Linked DNA regions of Homo sapiens: region 2 is linked to region 1. The links come from fine-mapping of genetic effects on gene expression. A gene starts in region 1. The other region holds a variant in brackets. All regions are shown on one strand. Distances are from middle to middle.

Region 1 (2,500 bases):
GTTCTGTGAATCACATTGAATACTGATGATGCAAGCTAGTGTGATACATACTTTTCAAACATTAAAAAAAATCTTATTACCATAAACAAATATTCACCTTAGATTTCCATTTGAAATCTTGACTTGGAATCACTTTTTTTCATCTGGTTTCGTTTGTTTCCCTTTTGGATTCCCGCGGCCTCAATTGCAAACGCGATTTGTGTAATTTCCAAACTTGTCAGAACTGCACGGGTAAGAGCTTAGAATGTGATTCATTCGCTCTTATTTTGAAACGGGATGAGGAATGGGGTGGGGGAGGGGGGGTAGACAGAGAGCCCTCTTGTCTACTGTACTCAGGAGGACGAAAACAGGGGAGGGAAGGGGAAAAGAGAGGAGAAAGGGAGAAAGGGAGGGAGGGAGGAGGAGAAGAGAAGGGGAGAGGAGGAGGAGGAAAGGAGGGAGGGAGAAGAGGGAAAAGGAGGGAAGGAGGGAAGGAAAAAACAGAAAGGAAAGAAGTGCTATAGCAGAATCTTTGCTGCCCATGTTATCTATTGCCTTGACTTCTCCATCTGCCAAGATGTGTCAAGCACGCAGAAGCTGGCTGGAATCGATATTTTAAAGACCCGGTTGCGATCTTTTCCTGGTCGTATCAAGGAGTCCTGGAGCTTCTAATATTCCTGGAGGGATATCCAGGAAGAGGAAAAGAGGCTCTTCCTTACTTCGTGCGGTCTTCCAAAAGAAGCACCTTTCGCTGGGGAGAGTCGCGGCGTGGGGTGCAATGGAAGGTTTTGTTCTCCTGGGCCACATGCGTTAGATGTCAGTTCTCTCCACCAGCAGCACCGGCCGGCGCGCGTGGGGAGATCACGCCGGTCTTCTGCCCTTGTAACAAACGCTCCAGATTTGGTCTGGTGCCTTAGGGCTCTGGTCCAGCGCACCCGCTGTGCGCAACGCTAGGCGCTAAGCTGCGCTCCTCGGCTCACGTGTGGACGCGCACGCAGACACGAGTGTCCACACCATACAGAGACATGGGTGCACACACGCGCGCACATAGACATGGGCGCCGCACATGACACGGGCACCACACATGACACGGGCACACACGCGCGAGCACGCTCTCGCCCTGGCTCTAATGCCCCCTCCTCTCGCTTGCGGATCGGCCTGGGCAGGTGTGGGGGTACGCCCCAGAAAGCGCCTAACCTTCTTCTGACCCCACTTCGCAGACACCCCGTGGCAGGGCTTCCTTTCTTCCTTGGGTCGCGGGGAGGAGAGGCGCCTCCTCCTCAGCCACCCAGGTCTGCAGCCTAGCAGAGGAAGGGTGGCGGGGTGGGGGTGCTGGCGGCGAGTCCCCCAGCCCCTCGCTTACCTTCGTGGCGAGGCCAGCTCTTGGGCTTCGCTGCACGGCGCCAGGCTAGGCGCGCTGGGTTGTTGCCTCTGGAGCAGGAGCGGTCGGTGTGTGGATGTCCCGAGGTGAGGGCGCCGCTGTCGCGCTTGAGGCTCCCGGAGCTGTCAGGGGCGGCCGACCTGACCGGCAGCGGCCCAGGGCAAACCCCGCCCTCCGGCCTAGGCCGGCTCCGCAGCGGGGACCGAGACGCCCCACAGCGTTTCCTGAAGGACCAATCCGGAGCGAGGGGCTGGCGTGGGGAAGGAGGGACGGGGGGCCTGTAGTGCACCCGGACGCCGGCCTGGACCTTGTAAGCTGGTTTCTATGGCAGCCAGGAGGGAGGGGCGAGAGGGAGGGGACGCGCGGCGCAGGGACACCCAGTGCAGTCGCTCGGGGAGGGGGGTGATTGGGCCTGACGCAAAGAGGACCCCTTCTAGAGTCTGGATGGGAGCAGCTACACGGCCGAAAGCGGGCTGACACAGCTCCCACCGACGTACGCCTCGTGCCGAGCGGTTCCAGCGCTTCAGCAAGGGTTTCCATGTCCTTGGGAAACCGTGACCCAGTAATCCTCCCAACAGAAAGGGGGTTTCCAGCAAACCACCGTGACAGCTCCTCCGGGTGAGTCGGGCAGGGTTTAGGTTCTGCAGAAAGAAGTGCTAATGTCACCCTCTGTCTGGATTCCTGGCATACATCGGTTCCCCTGGTGCCACTTTGTCACTGGCTCCCTAATCTCCTGCTAGGGAGATACTCTCGGCTGTGACCCTCAGATGCCAAAGATTATTTTTCTAGTTTATAAACTAGAAATACCGTCACTGGATTGAACGTAGAGTTGGAAATGGGATTCGCAAAATACTAAATAAAACATACCGGTTATTTACTGAAGTTTAAGCCCTTCCTTTTACAGAGAGAGAAAAAAAAAACTGAGTTCAGAGGGGTCAGTTAACTTAGCAAGGGTCACACAACTGATTAATGGCAGAGCCAGGACTAGACACCCTAAGTCATAGTTCTGCGAGCATTCTTTCTACTTCCTCCTGCTCTCCATCCTGTATTGATTGCCAGAGCAATATTTACAAGAGCAAAACTGTTAAGTAGCAACATAACCCATGTCTACAATTCTTTTATGGTAGAAACTAGGGAACC
Region 2 (3,020 bases), 29 kb after region 1:
GGGGTATTGGAAACTGCTATCAAAGTTTGCAAGTTACTTACCAATGTTTGTTTATTGTGCTGCTGGTATAACAACAATCATTTTGCATAATTAACCCAATTACCACAAAAATGTTCACCAACAGACTATTATTCGTTTTCTAAGGACCAAAAATTGTAACTGTAGGCAGTTTCCAAATATTATATAAAACAGGTAGGCGTCCCTTGGTATATGCGGGGGATTGGTTCGTATAGCAAAATCCACGCACACTCAAGTCCTGCAGCCGGCCCTGTGGAACCACACATACTAAAAGTTGGTCTTCTACATACATGGGTTTTGCATCCTGGGAATACTATAATTTTGATCCATATTTAGTTGAATGAAATCTGCATGTAAGTGGATGCAAGCAGTTCAAACCCACGTTGTTCAAAAGTAGACTGTATATATACATGTTTGCAATCAGAAAGCATTTTCCCAAAAGATTTCATAAACGCCTATTAGTTATCCAAACTAAGTACCTTAAAGACTTTTAAATCCATACTGAGCCTTAAGTACAAGATCCCTTTGCTATTCCTGTATTTACTCAGTCCTCGAATACTGACAGTAAGTTTGGACAGTGAGGGGGATAACATCATCTGAATCTATGTGGTTCCTTAATTTCAAGTGATGTATACCAACTGACAGTGACAAACCTATTTTAAAAAACTTTTACCAGAAGCTCTCCAAACTCCAGCATCAAAGAGAAAGATTCTGAATACTGTAGGCTATCTATGTTGTATTTACTGTATTAACAGTCTAAACAGCCTTAACCACCACATATAACAAAGACTTGGGAACAAATGTCCAGAAGTCTAATACTTAGCATGCTGTATTAACTGCTCTCTCCATACCCTTGTAATAGTAGGTTTAGGAACTATCCAAGATTCAATTCGTTGGTGGTAGCTACTGTGTCTGGTGTAGGAGACCCAGCAAAGGTTGTTCGGGGAGTGGGAGCAAGCAAGAAACCTGAGCAAGGTCAGGGACTCTTGACAGGGAGACGACTGGAATAGGGGATGAAGAACTATGTGGGGCGAGGCCCTGAGGTAGATTTCTCAGGACATTTCCATCATGCCTGCATGGCTCCCAGGAGAAGTATAAAGACCTTATTCTCCTCAGCTCCCTGGATGTCCGCCAGGCCTGACATATTTGCTGTTGAAAAGGTGGAGAGAGATGAACATATACTGCCTACTAACCTACTGTGCCAAAGCAGGTAACTCAATGTACATTAAAAAGTATAAACATGGGCCGGATGTGGTGGCTCATGCCTGTAATCCCAGCACTTTGGGAGGCCGAGGCTAGCGGATCACGAGGTCAGGAGTTTGAGACCACCCTGGCCTGACCAATATGGTGAAACCCCGTCTCTACTAAAAATACAAAAATTAGCCAGGGGCGTGGTGGTGCTCGCCTGTAGTCCCAGCTTACTCAGGAGGCTGAGGCAGAAGAATCGCTTGAACCCGGGAGGCGGAGGTTACAGTGAGCCAAGATCGTGCCACTGCACTCCAGCCTGGGCAACAGAGCGAGACTCCATCTGCCAAAAAAAAAAAAAAAAAAGGCAAATAAAAGAAAAGAAGTATAAACATGTCAGGGATTGCTTTTTTTTTTTTTTTTTTCCCTTGAGACAGAGTTTTGCCCTTGTTGCCCAGGCTGGAGTACAATGGCGTGATCTTGGCTCATGGCAACCTCTGCCTCCCGGGTTCAAGCAATTCTCCGGCCTCAGCCTCCCAAGTAGCTGGGATTACAGGTGCCTGCCACCATGCCCAACTAATTTTTTGTATTTTTAGTAGAGAC[G/A]GGGTTTCACAATGTTGGTCAGGCTGGTCTCTGAACTCCTGACCTCAGATATCCACCCGCCTCGGCCTCCCAAAGTGTTGGGATTACAGGCGTGAGCCACCGCGCCTGGCCGCTTTTTTTTCTTTTCTTTTTTTTTTTTTTAAGATGGAGTCTCACTCTATTGACCAGGCTGGAGTGCAGTGGCATGATCTCGGCTCACTGCAACCTCTGCCTCCCGGGTTCAAGCAATTCCCCTGCCTCAGCCTCCAGAGTAGCTGGGACTATGAGTGCCCACCACCACGCCTGGCTAATTTTTGTATTTTTAGTAGAGATGAGGTTTCACCATGTTGGCCAGGCTGGTCTCGAACACCTGACCTCAGGTGATCCGCCTGCCTCGGCCTCCCAAAGTGCTGGGATTACAGGCATGAGCCACCGCGCCTGGCTGTCAGGGATTGCTTGTAAATGTACTGTAAGTAACACGACACAAGAAATGTAAAAATAGAAATGGTAAAGTCTCACTATAAGATTTAATTATTTACGATCTTTAGGAAATAAGTCACAAACTATTTTCTCTATTTCTTTGAAAAATATAAAAATTGGGCAAGGCATAAAAGTAACAATTACTTCCAAAGTTGATACTGATTTGCATTTAAAGCACCAATATTTGAACAGGTAATACTATAAAAACGTGTACTTAGCCTACACATTAGAGATAATACATGAGATGGCTTCTGAGGCACTATTTTTTTAAAAAGGATTTAGATACTTAAATTTGAAGTGCATGTGGGAAAAAAAAATTTTAACAAAGTATTTGCTCATTACCTGTATGTTTTCGAAGATGTTCTTTAAAATGTCCAAAATGGTCAAACTGTTTCTCACAGTACTGACATACATGAATTTTTTTCCCAGTTCTTTGCTTCTTACTGACTCCACCTTCTTCAAGGTGGTAACAATTTAGGTGCTGTTTCCATGCGCTCTCTCGAAGATATCGTTTATTGCATATTTCACACTTGAAACTCTCAGTGGAGTGTGATTTCATGTGCTCCTTAAAATGGTAAAACAATTTAAATGAACGGTTACATTTCTCACAATGGAACAAGTCCTTCACATGTGACAGCTGAAGTTCCACAATTTCAATACCTTCTACCTGTTTGCTCGTGGGGTCAGATGGACAGCCATCTTCTTTAATCTGCCCTTTTCTGTCACCTTGACGGTACTTGCTGGTAATATCTGCC

Which allele goes with the higher level. Positions count from the first base shown, and alleles are read on the strand shown. Sizes are in standard deviations (SD) of each study's normalised expression.
With allele G in place of A in region 2, the expression in skeletal muscle of the gene that starts at base 1,529 in region 1 is lower (small effect, 0.40 SD a copy in GTEx).

Evidence for each region. PIP is the estimated chance that this variant, and not a neighbour inherited with it, causes the effect.
Region 2: its variant is fine-mapped to the expression of NIM1K in skeletal muscle (GTEx, PIP above 0.99). The same link has a PIP of 0.9 or more in aorta, fibroblasts, stomach, subcutaneous fat, thyroid and unexposed skin.

The regions. Positions count from the first base shown.
Region 1 is chr5:43,191,254-43,193,753 of GRCh38, reverse strand. It overlaps NIM1K (NIM1 serine/threonine protein kinase), which reads right to left and starts at 1,529. Exons shown (of 4, transcript NM_153361.4): 1 at 1,343-1,529. RefSeq lists an enhancer at 504-1,213 and a silencer at 1,549-1,688.
Region 2 is chr5:43,161,519-43,164,538 of GRCh38, reverse strand. It overlaps ZNF131 (zinc finger protein 131), which reads right to left. Exons shown (of 7, transcript NM_001330707.2): 5 at 2,608-3,020. Among named protein-coding and RNA genes, the nearest start is that of NIM1K, 29 kb to the left of the region's middle. The variant G/A (reference allele first, on the strand shown) is at 1,807.